Regions from separate parts of the Homo sapiens genome. Here region 2 is linked to region 1. The links come from fine-mapping of genetic effects on plasma protein levels. A gene starts in region 1. The other region holds a variant in brackets. All regions are shown on one strand. Distances are between the middles of the regions.

What was found. PIP is the chance, under the fine-mapping model, that this variant and not a neighbour inherited with it causes the effect. Protein levels are from antibody-based Olink assays in UK Biobank. Linkage for the fine-mapping came from a reference panel and not from the study's own genotypes, which makes the PIPs less certain.
Region 2: its variant is fine-mapped to the plasma level of the BPIFB2 protein (UK Biobank, PIP above 0.99).

Annotation. Positions count from the first base shown.
Region 1 is chr20:33,002,915-33,014,176 of GRCh38, forward strand. BPIFB2 (BPI fold containing family B member 2) reads left to right here and starts at 4,790. Exons shown (of 16, transcript NM_025227.3): 1 at 4,790-4,846; 2 at 5,627-5,769; 3 at 8,110-8,203; 4 at 9,889-9,993; 5 at 10,896-11,042. The coding sequence starts at 5,661. It overlaps SUN5 (Sad1 and UNC84 domain containing 5), which reads right to left and starts at 1,519. Exons shown (of 13, transcript NM_080675.4): 1 at 1,350-1,519; 2 at 1-5. The coding sequence starts at 1,426. RefSeq lists enhancers at 4,175-5,170, 5,171-6,165, 11,044-11,262.
Region 2 is chr20:32,988,879-33,000,140 of GRCh38, forward strand. SUN5 (Sad1 and UNC84 domain containing 5) reads right to left here. Exons shown (of 13, transcript NM_080675.4): 5 at 11,196-11,257; 6 at 8,760-8,809; 7 at 7,446-7,480; 8 at 6,741-6,849; 9 at 742-820. Among named protein-coding and RNA genes, the nearest start is that of SUN5, 9.9 kb to the right of the region's middle. The variant G/T (reference allele first, on the strand shown) is at 5,925.

The sequences.
Region 1 (11,262 bases):
CAATCCTGGGGATGATAAGATTCATAGTCGCATTTTACAATTATGAGGAACATAGTGTCCTTGGAATGTGCATACCACGTTCCAGATTGGGAAACTGAGGTACAGAGAAGGTTTCCCAACACCACCAGCCTGTGATTCAGGGACAGACCCAGGTCTGGCTGACCCCAAATCCAGGTATCCATCAAGGAAAAGACCCAGGTTGCTGTGGCAGTCACAGGCGGTTGTCGCCATGTCCCCGAGGTTGGCAGAAGCTTGGTTTTGTTCCTTTGTCTGCTCCTACCCAATGTGATTTTAGGCCATTTTGATTGGTCGAAGCCTGCTGTCGTGCTCCCATTCCCTGTGCTGTGATTGGTTCAAGGGTGAGGAAGTCTGCAGGGGTGAGGTAGGGTGAGGTAGGGGGGTGGTTACGAGGTAAGGGACTTGGGGGAAAAGTTAGGTTTAGGATTAGCTAAATGAGACCCACAGAAAACGATGCTTATTCTCCTTCCCCTAGACGCCACATTTCTGCGTGACACCTGAAACTGTGGTGGCCATCTTGTGACCATGAGAGGGGGCTAAAAGAGCAGAATGATGACAGGAACCTGGGTCTTGGGTGGCAGAACTGAGGAATTAACACACTCCGGAGCCCCCTGCACCTTGGGACCTCTTGATATGTGAGATTTAAAATTTTCCCTTATTTCTTAAGTCAAAGGTCTTTAAACATTTTTGTTTATACCACCTCAGAGTATTTATATTGGTTTATTAATAAATTATATATACACCCAATTGTACTAATACATTGTTTACCCTTCCCAAATGTACAGATTTATGGTAACATTCCTGAATAATATAAATTAAAAGAGGATGAAAGACATACATTCTAGCCTGGTTATTTCTTTTCTCACCCTTGGGGATTGTTTGGTATACTCTCTTGGGATATACACCCAGATTTGGGTGCCCAGAGATAGGCATCATTTTAAGTTGGAATTTCTGTCACCTGCATTCAGAGGCTTTCTGACAGATAAAGATGGCGAAATACTTGTTTCCTTCTTTCATACCAGTCTCCTGCACTAGACCGTGAGCTCCATGAGGGAACGGAGCACATCAGACTGGTGCCACACCGTGTTCCCCGTCCTCTGTGCATTTCCCGGCACACAGTAGATGCTCAATAAATGCGTGCTGGAAGGATGGCTGCTTCACCACTTCCTGGCTGGGAGACTTTGGGAATACCACTGCCAAACCTCTCTGGTCTTGGTGGCTGTCTCTGTACAGTACAGTTGACAATGCCACTCATCTCCAAGGACAGGGTGGAGGGGCAGCATTTTGTAAACTGTAAAGGGCTGGGCAAAGGGAGGGGCTGCCATCCTCACCTCCGGGGTCTGGGATTGTGGGCCACATCTTCGAGTAGGGCGCCTGGGTCCCCAGGGCTCCTTGAGGACCGTGGCATCGATTTCCTTCTTTAGGATTGGGGATGGAGATGGGAACTCTGGGAGCTGGTGAGGAGGAAGGGGCTGATGCCTCTGAATGTCCCCTGAAAAGTGCCAAGTGGAATCTGCCAGGATCAGTGGAGCAGTTGGCATTGTGACCTCACAGAGCAGGTGGGTGGAGGGGCAGGGGATGGGGCTAGTCTCCAGCTTGGCCCTAGAACCTCCCCCAGAGGAAGCCATTGTGACCCACTTTCCTTTCTTAAGATGGGGAAATTGAGGCATCAAGACAGGAAGGGCCATGCTGGGGTCTCAGAAGCTGGACAGGGGCGAGAGCTGAAGCTCCAGTAACCCAACCATGCTTTTCCTTGTTTCCTAGATCCCTTCCTGCCCCAAGCTTCCCAGGCTTTTCACCTTCTTAGGTTGCACCTGAATGCATTTTGTAATGCTGAGCTTCTCACTGGTGGACATTGTGCATAACACAAAATAACATTGCATGTGTTGTTGCTTTAATAAAGTTCTACTTTTTGTTGGGCCCGGTGGTTGATGCCTGTAATCCTAGTACTTTGAGAGGCAGAAGCGGGTGGATTGCCTGAGCTCAGGAGTTTGAGACCTGTCTGGGCAACATGGCAAAACCCCTTCTCTACTAAAAATACAAAAAATTGGCTGGGTGTGGTGGTGTGTGCCTGTAATCCCAGCTACTCGGGAGGCCGAGGCTTGAGAATTGCTTGACTCGGGAGGCGGCAGAGGTTGCCGTGAGCAGAAATCGCGCCATTGCACCCAGCCTGGGCAACAGAGTGAGACTCTATGTCCAAAAATAAAGTTCTACTTTTTTACTGGGGAAAATAAAAGCATAACCGAGTGGAAATGTCGGGCTAAGTTTTTTCTGTTCACCCTGCCTGTAGGGAGCTTGACTATTTGGATAGCAAAGCTAAAATGAATTCACTTTTGCCCCCTGGTGGCAGTTGCTTAAAATTGCAGGCTAATTACCAATGGGAAGTGGTACGATGGTCCCTCAAAGAGGCCCACACACTAAAACCTGAACATGTAAATATGTTAAGTCACAAGGCAAAAGGGAGTTAAAACTAGAAGAGCAATTTAAGTTGCTAATCAGTCGATCTTGAGATGGGAAGAATACCCTAGATTACCCATGTGGGTGCAATGTAATGACAAGGGTCCTTAAAAATGGAAGAGGGAGGCAGGGAGATGGCAGCACAAGAAGCACTCAGCCCAACATGCTGGCTTTGAAGATGGAGGAAGGGACCAGGAGCCAAGGAATAAGGGCAGCTTCTAGAAGCTGGAAAAGGCAGGTGGACAATTCCTCTCCTACAGCCTCCAGCAAGGAACACAGCCCTGCCAATACTTCCTTGATTTTAGCCCAGGGAGACCCATCTGGGACTTCAGACCTCCAGAATGGTAACATGATAAATTGTGTCTTAAGTCACTAAGTTTGTGATAATACATTATTGCAGCAACAGGACACCAATGCAAAACCCCTGAGAATATTCAGTGAAGGGGAAACTCTGAAATGCCACCACTACAATTGTTACAAGGGTCTTTCAAATGTATACTCATTCATTTATTCATTCAACAAATATTTATGCACCTAGTATGGTCCAGGTGCTGGAAACAGGGCTGAGCAGAACCAGCTCCCATCCCTGCGGATGCAGGCAAAGTGGCTGGCAGAACATTCTGCATATAGCAGGTGCTCACCAAACGGTGCTTGCCATTGCTGTCAGGAGCCGGTTGAGATCTGGGATGGGCTGGTGAGAATCTCCCTCTTTTATGTCTACTGGCTGTCACCCAAATGGCTCTTGTGCTGGAAATATTTAAGAAAAGGAAGTGTCCAGGCCAACAGCAAACACCAAGAGTGGGTTTGGTCAATATTTGCGCCTCTGTCCACTGAGTCTGCTGTTTGCATCAGCTATGGTGAGGGCGCAGGAGGGGCCGGTCTTGGGCATTGGTGGACAGACCAAGGCCAGGAGCAGGGTGTCAGGGAGCTCACAGCAGGCTCTTCTCATTCCTCTTTGCGTCTAGAATAGGGGCAAGGGAGCACTGGTTGGGAGGCAGGGCTGGTTCAAGTGAGCTCCAGCTGCTCAGGGGAGGGCTTGATGGTGTCTGTGGTCAGCTTTGTAGACACTGGTGGAGGCCTAGCACAGGGTGGGCCTGGGAGCTGGGCCTGATATTTGGGCTGGTGTGGGGTCAGTGGGAGTCAAAGAGTGCCCTGGAGTTGGGGAAAGGCCCCAAGTCATCCTGTGCCAATGAAGAAAAATGGAAAGGCCATCGCCTGCTGTGCACACATATATGCACACACACAAGAACATATATACATGTACCTCCCCATCCCAGGAAACAGTCCACTTGCATACACACATGCACCTAACACCACACACTCACAGACCCACAAACACTCAGTAGGCCAAGCCCACACATGCATACATGTACACAAAACTCCCCACCTCTGTGGTCCTGTTGGATTGTGTGAATAGACACACAACACCATAAACCAAGATGCCAACGTGCCCATTTCATGTCCACACTCACACATAAGAGCACACATTTTCCCCGTACATGTGACTATGCACACACACTCACATGCATGTATCAACACAACCCTCATCCACACATGTGCATATGCAAATTCCTTCATGCGCACACACAGTTCCTTGGGTCCCATCCAGCCAAGGCGGAGGCTGACGTTTGTAATGTGGAAAGAGACCGTGGACTAATCCATTGTGAGTGGAATGTGCATTTGGAGAGAGGCTGGGATGTTAAGCTGTGGGGACAGGTCACGCACACTTTCTCTTCTGTTCCCTTCTGAGTTAGGGCTCAGTTTGTGACTGGGATCAGGGCTCAGCATGTGATCAGGGTCAGAGCTCAGTAACTGGGGTCAGGACTCAGTGTGTGAATATGTGACAGGGTCAGGGCTCAGTCAATGACTGAGGATGGTGCTCAGGTAGCCTTCTGCCCCTCCTAAAAGGGTCATGTTTCCGAGAGAGCTTGGAGGTACCAGGCTTGAGGGGTCATTGCAGCCATCCCCTTGCCTATGGGAGGGGGGATGGGGTCCTCATGGGCCCCATCCTCCCAGGCCTTGGCTGGGCATGATAAGATACCCTCCTAGAAGCAGCTTTCCTTCCAGAGATCTCCTGGCCCTCACTAAGGCCATAGCTGCCTAGCCCCAGGGGCTTGTAGTGGTTGGGAGCTGGGCCTGGCTACTGGCTACGTGGCAGCCCCAGCGCACATGTGGGATGAGACACTTTGGCAAAGGCCATGTTTGCAGGGAAAACACTTGCAACCACAAGCAAACTCGCCGCTCCCTGGGTCCCTTCCCAGTGGACTCTGCACATTGGGAGCCTTATAAAGTAGCCTCTGCATCTGCCTGCCTCGGGCAGAGGAGGGCTACCCTGGGGCTGAGAGTTCACCTGTCTCAGGAACCACCTGAGGTAGGCATGGGGCTGGGCTGGTACACCACTTCCAAGGAGGCTTGGCTTCTCTATCTGTTCAGTGGGGATGCTACCTCCAGCCACCCTCTGCAGAAGGGTCCTTCCACCCCTGGCCTTGCTGTAGGACCTGGGCAAGTGCCGCCATCCTGGGTCTCAGCAGACCCACCTGAGCCGCAGTCCCTCACTCCTGCCTGGCTCCCTCTCCCTGAGTCAGACACAGATCTGCCTATTTGGCCAGACTGAGTCAGGAGAGGATGGGGGCCATGTGAGAGGCCTACTCTTAGGCCATTTACCACCTGGCCAGGAGGGGATGAGGACAGGAGCCACCCTGGGTCCTCCCCTGGCTGAATTTGGTGGACAGCTGGACACCAAGCTGGCTGTCACACGGGGCTGGACTCCGGCATCAGGTGATACAGTCCTGGGCATCTTCTTGGGACAGGAAACTACCCTCAGTCTCCCCGTTTGGGAGTCTCACCATCCTTCTATGCCATGGCTTGGGTCCTGCACCTGGTCCCAGTCCACTGTGTGGCCCTAGGCAAGACCATTTCTTCTCTGGGCATTGCGGGTCATTTCCAGAAGGGACTCCCCCATGATTCCTGATGAAGCAAGCAAGGCAAGGTGATGGTTCCCAATGCAGAGATGCAAAAACTGATGTCTGTGGGCCTGGGGCAGGGCTGGGATCACCAGTCAGGGCTTGTTCCCTCCAGGCTGGAGTGGGGTTCGGGTGGCTCAGGGGTGGGCTGTTTTGGCTGAGCTCCCTGATGCTCATTTCTACCCCAGCCCACAGATCCTGTGGGCAGCGGCCAGGGCAGCCATGGCTTGGGCAAGTAGGCTGGGCCTGCTGCTGGCACTGCTGCTGCCCGTGGTCGGTGCCTCCACGCCAGGCACCGTGGTCCGACTCAACAAGGCAGCATTGAGCTACGGTAAGCGGTGTGTTACCCAGTGAGTGTCTGTGAGCCTGTACATGCGTGTGCAATCCTAAGTGTGTGTGCGTAGCTGTGAACTCAAAAGGCCCATGAGGACCCAGATTTTAATTGGAAGTTGTGTCCCTGGCACCCAGACAGTGCCTGACACATGGCGCTGCTCAACAAATGCTTATTACATAAATGCGTGAGGGGGGAGTACGTCATGTGGCCAGTGTGCAAGTGTGCACATGTGACTTGCTCACATGCTTTGGTGATGTGGGCATAGGTCGGTTTGAGGGGCTATTTTTACCTGTGTGTGTCTACTTATGAGTTTGAAATTTCATAGAGCTGTGCCCACGTGTGTACTTAAGTGTCGGGGAGGGTGCAAGCCCATGATGCTGCCTGGATGTGTGTGCACAGGTACGGCTGTTCACCCTGGGTGTACACGTTTGCGTATGTGGTGTGTGCACGCACGTGTGTTCTTGGGAGAGGTCTGTCTAGCACCGTGATGCAAGGAGTGTTCTAAAGTTATATCCCTTCTGAGCTCAGCGTGAGAGAACCATCCGCTCTCTGGGTCCCACTTGTGCGAGGGCTCTGTCTTACGGCTGTGCTGCTAGATCCTTCCAAGTCTTGCCCCAATCCCCTAAGGAGGGCACAATGAAGAAACTTAGCCCCAGGGAGGGACAGACATTGCCAAGGTCCAGGACGCCAGCACAAACATGTTTATTCACCTCGAGTTGCCTCCCGGTGAGAATTTGGTTTCCCACCAAAGCCAGGAGATCAGAAGCGGTTTCCCCCAAGGCCAAACTCAGATTACAGTGTGAGAAAGTCAGGTCAGACAGTAGATGGGACCTTCAGTGGCCCAGGACATGAAGCAGTGGCTCAGGGAAGTAGCAGGTTTCCCCCACCCCTGGGTAAACACAGCCTTCCGGGACCTCATATCCGGGCTGATGGGCAGGCAATGAAAGGGGTCAGTGATCCGTGCCAGAGCATGACATGGAGCCATTCATGGATGCCTGCAGGTAGGGCCATGAGGCCCGCGCCCTCCGCCGCCTTCCTGCCCTCTGCCCATCCTGTGCAAGCCTCCTTTGTCCCCAGGGAGCCCTCCCCAGCTTGCCTGCCTGTGTTTGTTTTTGGCAGAAATCTGGCTGGAGGCCCACGCTGGACGCATTGCTCCCCAGGCTGGGCTGAGTGGCTACTTCCAGTGTCCTCCCCACCCCATCCTGCAAGCCCCAGAGTTCAAACCCTGCGTCAAGGGAGCACTGTAGATGGAGTCTGAGGTCTGGGTGTGAGTTCCAGCTCAGCTGCAGATGGTTAGGTGGGAGAGGGGTGCTGGGAAACATGGAAACCACCGCCTTTATGCTTCTTGTTGGGGGAGACTAAGAACCAGAGAGGTGCAGGGACTCCTCAAGTTCCCACAGTGAGTCTGAGCAGTGGGCAGGCCTCTTGACTCCTCATTTGAAGCTCCCTTCCAGCACCATCACCTCTTATTCTAATTCAACTCCTGCTTAATTAGCACCTCTCTGGGGCTCAGCAGCACAGGTGAGTGAGGATGCCCAGAGGCTCGGGAGCCAGGTCCCTCGGTCCAAAGCCAGCTTTCCCTGGCCAGGTGCCCTCACCTCTCTGTAAACTGGGCACGATAACAGGAAAAGTAAAGCACTCAGAACAGGGCCTGGCACTACAGGATCACAACATAAACGATTGCCGCTATTATTACAAAAATAAATAGCAATGGTAGAAGCTAGCATTTGCTGTGCACTGAGTGTTTACAATGATCCTATGTGACAGATACCATTAGAATCATTGCAGATGTATAGATGGGGAAACTGAGGCACAGAGTAGCCACACAGGCAGTGAGTAGCAGTGAGCACTGCGGTTTGAAACCAGGATCTGAGAGACTCTTGAGTCCTCAGCCCCCAGGTGAGGCTGTCCCCTCCCCTCCCAAGGGACGTCCCCTCTGCTCCCATGGGCGCCTCCACAGCAGGCCAGGGATGACTGGGAGATGCCCCTTCTGCTTGGGAACTTAGGGAAGGCTCCCAGAGGAGATGGGATCTGGTTGGAACCTTGCAAGAGGGCAAAGGATTTTGTTGCTTTTGAAGGACGGGGTAAATCAGCAGGATTTTGAGAGGCAGAGTGGGAGAAGGAGGTCATGCCCAGGTGGAGAGAGCCTGATGCGAGTGGTGCACCCAAGGTGGGCTCATGGGGAGTCAGCTGCCCTCCCCATATGCTTGGAGTAAGCCTACCCCTTCCAGTCTGAGTACCCTCTGCCCAAGGTGCAGGGTAGATGGCAGGCAGTGTGTTCTTGCTACTTGGTGGTTCCCGAGGGCACCCTGACCTCACTCTACCCTGGCCCCACAGTGTCTGAAATTGGGAAAGCCCCTCTCCAGCGGGCCCTGCAGGTCACTGTCCCTCATTTCCTGGACTGGAGTGGAGAGGCGCTTCAGCCCACCAGGTGAGTGCTCCCCTCCTCCAGAGAAGGTGCTCCTGCCACCAAGTGGAGTGTTCCTGCTTGCCAGGTGGGTGCTTCAGTCCACCGGGCATGTGCTCCTGCCTGCTGGGCAGATGCTCCTATCCACGGGGCAAAGTGTTCCAGTCCACCAGATGAGCACTCTCCACTGAAGGTGAGTGCTCCCTCCCACAAGGTGAGTGGTCACAAGATGATTTAAGAGAGGGACCCAAGATGGAGAAGCCGGGCCTGGTGCCTCTGAATTAGTGAATTTCTGCCCTCAAGGGCTAAGAGTGGCTCCTGGGTCCCCAGGGCTGGCAGGACCCTCTGTTTCTAGAAACTGGATACTGAATTTAGACACGAATCTGAGCCTCCTTTACCTCCACCCTACTCTGCTTAATGCAGAAACTAAAGGCATAGGGATGTGGAGCATCCCAAACTTAGACACCCCTGGGCTGGTCAACAGTCACCTTCCACATAGGAACTAGGGCTCACTACTGTCAGATCTTTGGGTTTCCAAGAGAAGATATACATCTAGAATCCATCAAATTTGGAATGATAGCAACTAATGAAAAAACATTTAAAGCCCAGGCGCAGTGGTCCACGCCTGTAATCCCAGCACTTTGGGAGGCCGAGGTGGGTGGATCACCTGAGATCAGGAGTTCAAGACCAGCCTGGCTAACATGGTGAAACCCCATCTCAACTAAAAATACAAAAATTAGCTGGGAGTGGTGGCGTGTGCCTGTAATCCCAGCTACTCAGGAGGCTGAGGTGGGAGAATCTCTTGAACCTGGGAGGCAGAGGTTGCAGTGAGCCAAGATTGTGCCATTGTACTCCAGCCTGGACGACAAGAATGAAACTCTGTCTCAAAACAAAAAAACAAAAACAAAAACAAACAAACAAACAAAAAATATTTAAGACTTTAAGACCCTGGAACAATGGGTGGATGGTGAAAAAAACATCTGGCTTGGGGGCCACCAGTTTGAGATCCCTTAGGAAGAGCTGAAATGCAGTTCATGGCATGGTTAATAAAGGTGGAGAACTGGACATAAATACCCAGCGACCAAAGATGCCTAAATCACTTGTGGTCTGGCCACACAATGGACACCATGGGGCTGTTTGAAAACAGTGCCCGGGGCTCTTGTTTGTAGACACAGGATTGAACCCAGGATTGTTGAGTGCACAGACGCAGCTTCTGTACGGGGACCTGAACTGTACAGTGCAGAAATGACTTTCATTTAGGAAATAAAATAAATCACAGGTTAGCTGGAGAGTGCTTGGAGCTTTGAAGTGGGGGAGCTTCTGTTGCTGTAGGCTACGAGCTGCAGACATTGACTAGGATACCAGAGAGAGGATTTCTGCCTTCTGTGGTTCCTGAAGTTTTTCTTTTCCAACCTTCCCAACTTTCCAGGCAGGGGTCGGAAACTGTCAAAAACCTGAGCAATCATCTCACCCAAGTCCTGCCCGAAGCGGGGGCCCCTCTGCATGTTCTCCCTACCAGCTGGTGTCCAACCTTGGTTTGCATGCCCCGTGGTGATGGAGAACTCACCATCTTCCCCTTACCTCATGGTTCCAATTGTCAGAAAGCCCTTCTTTATAACATCGTGTGGGTATGGCTCAGAGCACCCACCCCAGAGTTGATCCCATGGTTTAATGGGGGCCACTCTGTCACCTTGATTACTACCCTGCAGGATCCGGATTCTGAATGTCCATGTGCCCCGCCTCCACCTGAAATTCATTGCTGGTTTCGGAGTGCGCCTGCTGGCAGCAGCTAATTTTACTTTCAAGGTCTTTCGGTGAGCGGATCTCCTTGTTAGGGGGTGAGAAGGGTTTTGGGGATGCTCCGAGGGATACAGTGAGGGGACGGGGGGTAGCAACTCCTCCAGGGCCCTCATCCAGGCCTCTTGACTCTCTGTCCAGTTGCTCTCTCTCCCCTCACGCTTGGAGGGGAGCAAGATAGTGAGAACATTTCTGAGAACCCTGCTCAACAGCTCTGCAACTGGGCAGAGTCACTTGGCTTGTTTACCCCCTCAGCTTCCTCATCTGTAAAATGGGATGAACTTCTGTAAAGTGCCAATGACGGTTTGGTGAATGGGTTCATTGCTGTGATTATAATGACTGTCCTCTCTTTCCCAGGGCAAGGCACATGAGAGACGCTCAATAAGCATAACGATCAGAGTTATTTTTGTGTGCCTGGCATCTTGTATGTTACTGCATTTAATTTTCACACCATGAGCTGTGCAGTCAGAGGGGTCTCTTATCTAGCTTCTCTACCCTGACACTATGATTTTATGATTGCTTCCTGTGGGCCAGGCTCTGTGCTGGGTGTTTTCACATGATTATCTCACAGGAAACTCAGCACAGCCCTGCGAAATAGGTCCCACCAACCTTATGTCCATTTTACAGAAGAGGAAACTGAGGCTCAGCATGGTAAATGACTGGCCCAGGGTCTCACAGTGAGAGGCTCCGGACAGCCAGTGCTCACACCCACTGCTGCAACGTCTATGACCCCAAGTGGAGTCTTGAGGCTGGGGGCTGTGGGCCTGCCCCAGGTAGGGCCATCTCACTCTGGGAGTGGGGGGCCTGCCTGGGCCAAGTGGAGGGCAGGCAGGGGCTGGGGAATTTGTAAGATCTATCATCAGTCATGGTGGGCTCTGCTGGGCGGTGCTGCTCGGGCTCAGGACTGGCATCCCTACAGCGCCCCAGAGCCCCTGGAGCTGACGCTGCCTGTGGAACTGCTGGCTGACACCCGCGTGACCCAGAGCTCCATCAGGACCCCTGTGGTCAGCATCTCTGCCTGCTCTTTATTCTCGGGCCACGCCAACGAGTTTGATGGCAGTAACAGGTGGGTGCCTGGTGAGGGCAGGGTCACAGGAATCCCAGATGCCAAAGCTGTGCTGCTGTTTCCTGAGCTGCCCACTCAGGACTTTAACCAATGGCCACAAGGGCCTCAGGGGCCCCCATTATTGTGCTTGTTTTATGTCGGAGGACACTGAGGCTCAGAGAGGGGGAGAGGCATGCCTGAGGTCACACAGCAAGTGAGCGGCCAGAGCCTGGGACCTTTC
Region 2 (11,262 bases), 14 kb before region 1:
AAGCCCAGCCCTGAAGCACTGATTCTTTTTTTTATTATTATTATTTTACTTTTTTTATTTTTTGTGAGAAGCAGTCTCTCTCTGTCGCCCAGGCTGGAGTGCTGTGGCGCGATCTAGGCTCACTGCAAGCTCTGCCTCCCGGGTTTACCCCATTCTCCTACCTCAGCCTCCCGAGTAGCTGGGACTACAGGCGCCCACCACCACGCTCAGCTAATTTTTTGTATTTTTAGTAGAGACGGGGTTTCACCGTGTTAGCCAGGATGGTCTCGATCTCCTGACCTCGTGATCTGCCCGCCTTGGCCTCCCAAAGTGCTGGGATTACAGGCGTGAGCCACCACACCTGGCCGAAGCACTGATTCTTGACTGCGGGTTGGAGATGGCTCTGTCTTGCTGACCTGTGTGCCCAGCATCGGGTTTGGAGAAGAGTGGTGGGTGGGGGTGGTGGAGAGGTAAAGCCAAGAACAGCCTAAGCACATAGTAGGGTCTTTATAGATCTTCTATAATGTTGAGGGCCTGTGGATTCCCGTGTTCCCTCCCACCCCACCCCACCCCTACCCCCATACCCCACCCCGTCCCAGAACCCCTTGAGAGAAAACAAAATTGTAGCAAGAAAACCAGCTTGGAACAGAGGATGAACTTCCCAGCGGCAGAGGGAGTACCACACCAGAACTGAAACCCACCCTGTGTACAGCTTCCCAGGACACTTGAGGCAGTCAGATGGTGGGGAAGGGGGTCACCTACCTATAGACTTCAGGGCAAAGTCTGGCTTTTCGATGTAATCTCCGTGTATCATCTTCATTATTTTCTGGGCCATTTTTTGCTGAAAAGGCAGAAAACACAAGTTGTGCCCTGGTGTGTTGTCACGGACTGTGATCCCCACGTGTCCACGGGAGGTAACAGGGGGCTGCAGGACGCTGTCCTCTCCCTAACAGCCCACCCCTGCCTGTGGAAGCCTGTGGCTCTGTGAAAGCCCAGGTGACACAAAGCCATCCTGACCCCACCCTGGGTTCACTGGGTGCTTTCAAGTCCACTGTGACCAGATGTCATATGGAGGTCCCGGAGTCTCAGTGAGGTTCAGGCAGGGGCTCTGACGTCAGGCCAACTTTTACTGTTGTGGGGCCTTGGGCAACTTACTGCCCCTCTGAGTCTCGATATTCTCACCTGTAAGACGGGGACAATAATCGTGTCTACCTCCCACTGTGGATCTGTAAAGCCCCTACTATGTGCCAGGGCTATCCTCGGCTTCACATATGCTCACCCTATCCCCTCCCAGCACCCCTAAGAAGTATGCACTATTATCATCCTTGTATTAAAGATGAGAATACTGAGGCACAAAGGTGTAGCTTGTTCAAGATCACCCAGCTGGTATGAGGCAGAGCGATCACTGTGGTTCCAGAGTTCAGGCCCTTAACCGCTCCACTCTGCTGCCAGATGCGGATGGCAAAGCACTTAGCACAGTAGGTGCACAATAAATACCAGCTGTTCTTTTTATTAGACTCTTCACAGTGGTGGAAGATTCTGTTTTCCAAAAATGGCTGCAACAAGGTCTCCCATTCCAGGCTCTTCTTTCAGTGTGACCTCCCACTGAGAGTTGGGGTCTAAGCTCCCTTCCCACCAGTCTGGGCTAATGACTTGGCAGAAGTGATGCTGTGTGACATCTAGGGCTAAGTCCTAAAAAATGATACAGCACTGCCTGGTTCTCTGGGGACAGCCACTCCTGGAGGCCAGCTGCCATGTTGAGAGGAAGCCCAGGCCACACGGAGAGGCCACAGATGGGTGCTTTGATCAACAGCCGTAACTGAGTCCCAGTTGATAGCCAGCATCAATCTCCAGTCACGTGAGTGAATCCAGATGATTCCAGCCCCAGATGTAGAGTCACCTCCAGCCTTCAAGTCTTCCCAGCTGAGGCCCCAGATACCATGGAACACAGACAAGCCATCTCCACTGTGTCCTGTCTGAATTCCTAACCCACAGAATCTCTGAGCACAAGTGGTTGTTTCACACCCCTAAGTTTTGGGATGGTTTGCTATGTGGCAATGGTAACTAGAACAATAGCCAGGGTGTTACAAGGCAGTGATTATGATTCTGTCTTGTTGATGTGCAAACTGGAGGCTCAGAGAGGTTGATGACCTGCCTGAGGTTACACAGCTCCAAAAGGCAAAAAAATCCCCAACTCCTCCCCTCGTTTACTGGGGACAATAATCTCACCTATTACTTTTCAAAACTGGGTCGCCAACCCTAAGGAATTTCCCTGATGGCCCCCACCCTTTCTCTGCCCCAAGGCTGAGTGCAGTCTTCTTCTCTGGGATCCACAGGTGCTGGGACTGGCTTGAGGGCAAGGACGAGCTCTAGTTGATCCCCGATCCTGGATCCCCAGCACGCAGTAGGCACTTAATGATTGCACATTGATGAGTGCATGCCTTTGGATTCTGCCTTTGTTTAAATGCAACACACATTTAGGGAGCACTCACCATAGGACAGACATTAGTCTAAGTTTACATGAATTACCATGTTTAATCCTTACAACTCATCTTCTAGATGAAGAAACTGAGGCACAAAGACGGTAAGTAAATTGACCAGAGTCACACAGCTTATAGGTGGTGGGGATGAAATTCAAAGCCTAGCAGCCTGACTCTAGAGCCAGTCCTTATAATCACTATACCTTACTGCCTTTGTAAGTCATAGCGGGGCTTCCCTCCCCACTGCAGAGGAAACACCTGCCAAGAGCCTCACTTGACAGTGAGTGACTGACACGGTCTCTCCTCCTGGGTCTGTCTGAACAGAGCTTAGAGGGGAGATTCAGGGGCACTGGAGACCTAGGACTTTGGGACAATAAAAGATAAAGATGAGTTTTAGCAAATTTTGCTGAATCTTGCACAATGGAATTTATCTTTGTGAACTCTTTTAAAAATTCAACTTCTAGGTAAAGTTGATGGATCGAAGACATCACGTAATTTTAGTTTCTCCCAACACTCCATTACAGCTTCAGTAAAGGGATTTGAAAAGACCCAAACCCATATGAACAGGAAGCACAGGAGAGGAGAAAACCAGGCTGCTGCGTATGGTTGTGCACGTTGCGCACAGCAGAAAGGTTCCCAGTTGAGGGGCCCTGTGTGGGTGCTGAAACCCAGCTCTTCCCCTGTTCTTTGATTTGGAGGAAGGTGCATTTTGCGAATTCATCTGCCCAGCACAGATAGTTTTTTCCAGTCTGCAAAAAGGCACAATGTGTCCCAGCAGTGGCCCTGGAGACAGCAGCAATATTCTGGAAGTTGTCCTACACCTTGTAGGATGTTTAGCAGCATCCTTGGCTACCCACTAGATGCCAGTAGCGTCTCCTCCTCACATTGTAACAACCAAATATATCTCCAGACATTGCTGGATGTTCCCCAGGGGGCAAAATAATCCCCAATTGAGAACCACTGATTTAGCAGAAATGAGAAATCTGAATCCGAAACTGGCCATCCTCAAAAAGCTCAGGATTGGTGGCCTTAGGTGCCCCTGAAATTGGGGTAGAGAATTGGGTGTTAAGACAGTTAAGAGGAATCTGCATATTCCCTGGGGACTCCCTCTCACTCTGAGAAGCTGAGTGGACTTCTCTGTTCCCCAGTAGAAGACTAGAAGTTATTCTCTGGAGAGGGTAAAACAGAAGGGCTCTGTTGGGACAGGTGAAGGTTTCTTAAATAGGATACCCAAAGCACTGCACAAAAAAACATAGATACACTGGACTTAATTAAAATTAGACATTTTTGTTCATCACCATTGAGAGTGAAAAGCCACGCTATAGCCTGGGAGGAGATATTTGCAATATGTACATCCAATAAAATATGTTTACCCAGAACACAGAAGAACTCCGACATATCAATAAGAAATGGCACTCTCCCCCAAAAGGCAACAGACAAAATCCAAATGGCCGCTGGATACAAGAAAAGACACTCCACATTATTAACAACCAGAAATGCAAATTAAAGCCATAGTGAGATACCACTTCTCACCCTGCAGAATAAAGTAAAAAAGACATATGACACCAATTGCTGGTGAGAATGTGGGACAACTGGAATTTGCATATATTTTTCATGGGAGCGTAAATTGAAAAACTATTTGGCAGCATCTAATAACATGAACACACTCATACCTCATGATCCAGCAATTCCACTCCTAGTTATATCTACCGCCAAGATCAATAAGTATATATGTTCACCCAATGATATGAAAAAAATTATAATTGTTCAGGAGCAGACATTCAAACAACAGGAGCTTCAAAAATAAGAATAGAGCAAATGCTGCTGTGGGAAATCACCAATTTAGTCACATGAATAAATAACATTTCTTAGGCCCAAAGGCCAGGAGTTTCCAGATTGACGGATTCCAAAGGGTGGCCAGCCCATAGGCACATCTGTGGAAGCAACAAGGACCAGATGAACTAAAATTCTGCAGAGCAGAAAACCATTCTGAGATGTGCTGGCATTTTTTGTCCGTTTGTTTTAAATCTCTGGGGGTATTTGACGATTCTAGGCATAGGCTAAGGATCTGGGCTTAGGCCAGACAATGGGCTGCTGCTACTGGTGAAAGAGAAGGAAGCAAAGTTCTTAATGGTGACAAAGAGCTAAAGTAACAAAACTGGGGACTTGAGGAGCCTCAAATATGGCCACTTTTCTTCACAAGGTATTAACTGAATTTCAAGACTATAGGAGGCTATAGGCCACTTCAAACATTTCTGAAAAGCAGAATAAAACTTCATATCTTCACAGTGCTTAGGAAACGAAGTCCCTTTGAGGGAGGGCACCGCAAAACACAACAAGCAAGAGATCAAGGCCTTAGAACAGTGATTCTCTCTGGTATATGTCAGAACCACCTGGAAGGCTTGCTGGAACACAGATGATTGGTTTGCATCTTCAGAGCCTCTGATTCAGAAGGTCTGAGTGAGGCCTATTAATTCGAATTGTTAACATTTTCCCAGGTGATACTGATGATGCAGGCACGTGGGCCGTGGGCCGTACTTTGAGATCCATTACCCTAGAAGGGGTGGTGATGAGTCAATACTGTGCTTCAGCTGCACTTCACCTGGGGGCACTAAATCAATCCTGGGCACAATTAGAACCCAGGAATCCAAGTTTGCTCCTGGCGGAGAAGGCTGCCACCAGGCCCAGAGATTTTTGCGTTCATGCAGGGGTGAGAGACACATTTGGAGACTTGTGAGGCCTCAAACATACAGTAAGTCTGCCACTAAGACAGTTGTCAAATTTTTGAAGCTGCATGGGAAGGAGTCTAAAGAGTTAAGCTTAAAACCTCTGGATAAATTTTTTTAAAATTGTGATCCAGGTCTGTCTGAACTAGCTTAGTGCATGTCTAGATAGAAGTGACCAGTCTATTTCATCCTCCTTATAAAGAAAAGGGGAACTTTCTCTAGTGGAATTATAATTATTTGGAACAGCTACAGTTCTTTTGTATACAATGTTGAGAAACCACTAAAAGTTACTAGACTTGAAGAGGCAAGACCATATCATTGATACCCAAGATAAAAAGCAGAAAACAGAGGGAGGCCACAGATGATCCAGACATTGGAGTTAGCAGACAAGGATTTTTAAAATAACTGTTGCTAATGTGTTAATTAAAATAAAGGAAAAGATGGACAACATAGGTGAAATGTTGGGGAATTTCACCACAGAATTAAAGTCTGTGAAAAAAATCAAATGTATATCCTAGAACTAAACAATGCAGTATCTGAAATTAAGAACTAAGGCTGGATGCAGTGGCTCACGTCTGTAATCTTAGCACTTTAGGAGGCTGAGGCAGGTGGATCACTTGAGGTCAGGAGTTCAAGACCAGCCAAGTCGACATGGTGAAACCCTGTCTCCACTAAAAATATAAAAATTAGCTGAGCGTGGTAATGTGCACCTGCAATCCCAGCTACTCAGGTGTAGGAT[G/T]CACTTGAACCCAGGAGGCAGAGGTTGCAGTGAGCTGCCTGGGCGACAGAGGGAGACTCCATTAAAAAAACAAAAAGAACTAAATGCATGGATTTAATAATAAATTGGAGAGACAGAATGATGCAAGATTATTAGTAAACCTGAAGAAAGGTTAATAGGAAAATATCAAAACATAAGCACATAACAGAAAAAGAATGAAAAAACAAACCAGGTAATAGCGTAGGAATCACATAAAGCACTCTAAAGGCTTTCAAAGCATAGGCCTAGCATAGGTGTAATTAGAATCCAAGGAAAGGAGACAGATAATGGAAAGAAGAAATATTTTAAGAGATAAAAGGTAAAAGTTTCCCAAAACTATTGAAAAATATCAACCCACAGATTTAATAAGCTCGGCAAACCACAAACCAGGTTATATGAGGAACATTAGAGACAAAAAGATTTTTCTACAAGCTCCCAGGGATAAAAAATAGATCATACTCAAAGGATCAATAATAAGAGTGCCATTAGACTTCTCATTAGCAACAGTATAAACTATAATAGAGTGGTGGGCTTCCTTCAACATTCTCAGGAGAAACTATTTCATATTTAGAATTCTGTACCCAGCCAAACTATCAACCAAGTACAAGGATAGAAAAAGATGCTTTTAAACATACAAGCACTAAAAATATACTTCTTTCACTGTATTCCTGAAAGTCACTGGGGGATGTGCTCCCTCAAAATGAGAGATAAAACCAAGAAAGAACACTTGAGGTATAGGAAACAGGACATCAAACAAAGAGAAATTAGATGTTTGGGGCAGAATGGCCAGCGTCTCACCTCATCGGACATGGCTTCCATCTCCTGGAGCTTGGCAATGAGCTGGTTCATGCTACCTCGGAGGTCCTGGATTTCCCCACTGTGATGTCGCACCTTCTCCTGGTACAACCTTATCAGGAAGGAGTGATAACAAGAACAGGTTGATTTGTGATGCGTTGTTGTTACCCTCAGATTTTCCCTTTGCTAGTTGGCTCTCAAAGAATGAGTTTCAGATTTTCCTAATCTCTTGGGCCCATCCCTGGACCCATTCATCAGGTTATTATCTCTAAAACATTACTCATTCTCTTCTTTCTGCTTGGAATATCTTTATACCCAGCTCATTCCTTCCAAATATTCCTGAGTATTTTGTCTGCAATTAAGGATGCTGCCATCAGGTGGTGTCTTGGTTAAAATTTCTTCTCAGCTACCATTTGCTGAGCACTGACTATGGGTCAGGAGCTATTCAAGACACTTTGCATCTTCTTTAGCACCCATAATTGCCAAGAGCAAGATGGGTGTTATGCTTCATCTCATAAATGAGGAGTCAAAGGCCCAGAGAGAATAGGTGACTTGCCTAAGGTCAGCCATGTAGAAGGCATGGGAGTTAGGATTTAAACCCAGGTTGATCTGACTGCAGAGCCTATATTTGTAGCCAATACACCCCAGATTCTGGCTATAGCTCTGCTTTTTAGGTAATAATATGGTTACCCAGAAGATTCCTCTTACCTCAAGCTCTGCAGTGGACCATTTATGCTGTCATCCTGGTGGAGTATTGAGAAAGTAAGGGGTCTCCTTCAGATGGCTTAATCTGGCCCCAGGAGAACTTCATCCATCTATTCTCCCACAATTATAAACCCATACATTCATCCACTTTCCTGTTGACTCTTCCACCCGTCTACCCACCTATCATTTCTCCAAACTCTAATTTACTGCCCTTTTTATTCATCCTTCCAGACTTTTATCCATCCATCCACACCTTCATCCATCCACCCTTATACCCACCCACCCTCCCTTATCCATCTGTTCTTCCAACTCCCCAACTTCCCCCATCTATTTACACTCCAATCCATATACCCTAACCCATCTACCCACTCTTTCATTCATCCATCTATCCACCAACCCACCCACCCACTCATCTATCCCATCTGCTCTTGCATCCACCCATCATTTCATCCACCCATTCACCTATTCATGTATTCACCTAGCCTCCTATCTCTTTCCCCTAGTCCTACATCCATCAAATCCAACCTTCCATCTGTCCATCCTCCCATCCATTCTCTCTCCATGCACACTCCCATCTGGCCATCCAGTCATCCAACATGGATAGTGGCAACCCTGTTGCTGGCACCAAACTAAACATTGCTGGGGTGAATAGGACCTGGCTCCTTCCTTCAAGAAGCTGCCAGTACAGTTGGAGAGACAGTCATGACCACAGAAAATTATCGGAGGAAAGAGGAATGTGACAACTTCTGCCTGGGTGTTTCTAGAGGAGGTGATATTTTAGCCGGACCTTGATGGACCTTGATGGATATGAAGGGGTTCATAAGGAGGAAAAGAGGAGAGGGAGGGACAGGCCTTTCAGATTCCCTTTCTGAGGTCCTCTGAGACTTTTTGCAGACCTCATGTAGGGAGTTTCGCTACTTATTTCCTCCTCCTTCCTCCTCAGAAACCTGAAAGCAAATGAGTATCATTGCTGTTAAGCAGAAGGACAAGCTGCCTTAAGTACAGAAATGTGTTCCCTGTTATCACCACCCCACTTTAAGTGGGGCCTTGAGAAAGGAGAGATGGGTCATCTCTGAGAGTCAATACAGGAGAGCCATCTTGGAGGAGGGACTATTGCATCCAATCTTTGAAAGTCACCTCTGGCAGAGAGATGGGTTCTAGGTGGATGGTACGATGAAGGGTGAGATTTGGATCTGGGTCAAGTCAGGAACTGATGAGGGGCCCCATTTGGTGAGAATGAATGGAGCTGTGGAGGTGATATTGACTGGTTAGGGTGAGACCTGTCAGCTGTGGGGCCTGAGGAGGGTGCACACTCACCTGCCAGACTTTCATTTTCGATGGTAAGTGAATAGAAAACATCCAGAATCCTGTGAGGCCATGAGAATAAGAATGAGCCATTTAACATGCAAGATGAAGAGCCTAGGTGCTGGAGTTAGGACATCTGGGTTCAAATCCCAGCTATGCCACTTGCCAGCATTGTGCAACACTGGGGGAATTACTTAATGCTCTATGCCTCTGTTCCCTCCTCTGTAAAATAAGAATAACAATAATATCCACTTCATGATCAGATGATATCAAATGTGTAATACATGGCACATAAACCAAGTCATCTGTGGCTCCCCCTTCCCTGTTCCAACTCTACTGGGGATAACTGGCAAAGAGAAGAAGGCGCTCTGCATTTTATGATCTCCATGCTGGCTGAAAAGCCACCATTCAAGCCATTATTTAAAAGTCTTGGCCAGGTGTGGTGGCTCACGCCCATAATCCCAGCACTTTGGAAGGCTGAGGCAGGCAGATCACTTAAGCCCAGGAGTTCAAGACCAGTCTGGCCAATGTGGTGAAACCCCATCTCTACAAAAAAAAAAAAAAAAAAAAAAAATACAAAAATTAGCCCGGTGTGGTGCACGTCTATAGTCCCAGCTACCCGGAGGCCGAAGTGGGAGGATCACTTGTGCCAGGAAGTCGAGGCTGCAGTGAGCTGTGATCCACTGCACTCCAGCCTGGGCAACAGAGTTGAGACCCTGTCTAAAAAACAAACAGCTTTTACTGAGGCAGCAGAATCGCTTGAACCCGGGAGGCAGAGGTTGCAGTGAGCCGAGATCATGCTGCTGCATTCCAGCCTGGGTGACAGAGACTCTGTCTCAAAAAACCCCAAAAACCAAAAAACAAAAACAGCCTTTAAAATTTATTTATTCTTCTTGATAAAACCCTCAACGAACTAGGAATAGAAGGGAAACTCCTCACCATGATAAAGACCATCCATGAAGAGCTCACAGCTCACATCCTATTTAATGGTGAAAGACTGGGCGCTTTTCCCCTAAGATCAGGGATGAGACAGGGATGCTTCCTCTTGCTAGTTCTATTTAACATGGTACTGGAGGTTCTAGCCAGGCCAGTTAGTCAAGAAAAAGAAGTAGGCCAGGCGTGGTGTCTCACACCTGTAATCCTAGCACTTTGGGAGGCTGAGATACGATGGTTTGAGGCTGGGAGTTCTAGACCAAACCGGGCAACACAACAAGACTCAATCTCTCCAAAAAAAAAAAAATTTAAACAAAAATTAAAAAATTAGCTGGGGGTGATGGTGCACGCTTATAGTCCTAGCTACTCAGGAGGCTGATGTGGGAGGATCACTTGAACTCAGGAGTTTGAGGCTGCAGTGAGCTATGATTGCACCACTGCACTCCAGCCTAAGTGACAGAGACAGACCCTGTCTTAAAAAACAAAAAAGAAGTAAAGGTCGTCCAGATTATCATGCAGAAAAGAGTTAAACTACCACTATTTGCAAATGACATGATCTTGCATTAGAATTCTAAGGGATCCAAGGTTAGGTGTCTTGCCTTGTGTTATAACTAAAAATCGGGTTCAGCAAGGTTGCAGGATACAAGATCAAGGTACAAAAAGTCAGCTGTATTTCTATATACTAGCAATAGATAACCTGAAAACAAAATTAAGAAACCCATTTCTAATAGCGTCACAATAAAGGTGTTATTTAGGCTGGGCACGATGGCTCACGTCTGTAATCCCAGCACTTTGGGAGGCCAAGGTGGGTGGATCATGAGGTCAGGAGTTCAAGACCAGCCTGGCCAAGATGATGAAACCCCATCCCTACTAAAAATACAAAAATTAGCAGGGTGTGGTGGCGCGCGCCTGTAGTCCCAGCTACTCGGGAGACTGAGGCAGAGAATTGCTTGAACCCGGGAGGCGGAGGTTGCAGTGAGCCGAGGTTGCGCCACTGCACTCCAGCTTGGCAACAGAGTGAGACTCTGTCTCAACAACAACAAAGGTGTTATTTATCGAAGTCCTAGTTGTTGGATTTTAAAGTGGGACGGTTCTCTAGGATTCACTGTCTATTTTCCCATGGGGAGCTGATTCTCCCTCCCTACCCCACCCCCAGCCTCCACTCCAAAGCCAGTATATGTCAGTGGAGGGAGGAGATTCCTTTGCTTGGGAAAGCTAAGCTGTGTTGTGCGAGGTGGGGGTGGTGGCTGGAAAGAAGCCATGGAAACCCAGAAAGCGGAAGTAACAATGTTCATAACACGGTTTGGGGAGAGCTTTATAACTTCTGAAGCATTTCTTGGCTTCTACAATATTTTCATGGTCATCATTTCATTTCATAATTCTCACAGCAACACCCATCAGGCAGATGGGGAAACTGAGTCACGTGGCAGTGCAGTGTCTTGCCCAGTGTCCTATAATCAGTGCCAGGGCCCAGGGATACCTCCACCTGGGACTGGGCAGGGCCCTGGGACACACCGAAAGCACAGAGGAGCAGAATGCCTGTCTTCTCCATGAGCTTCTGGCACAGCAGCTTGCATCTGGA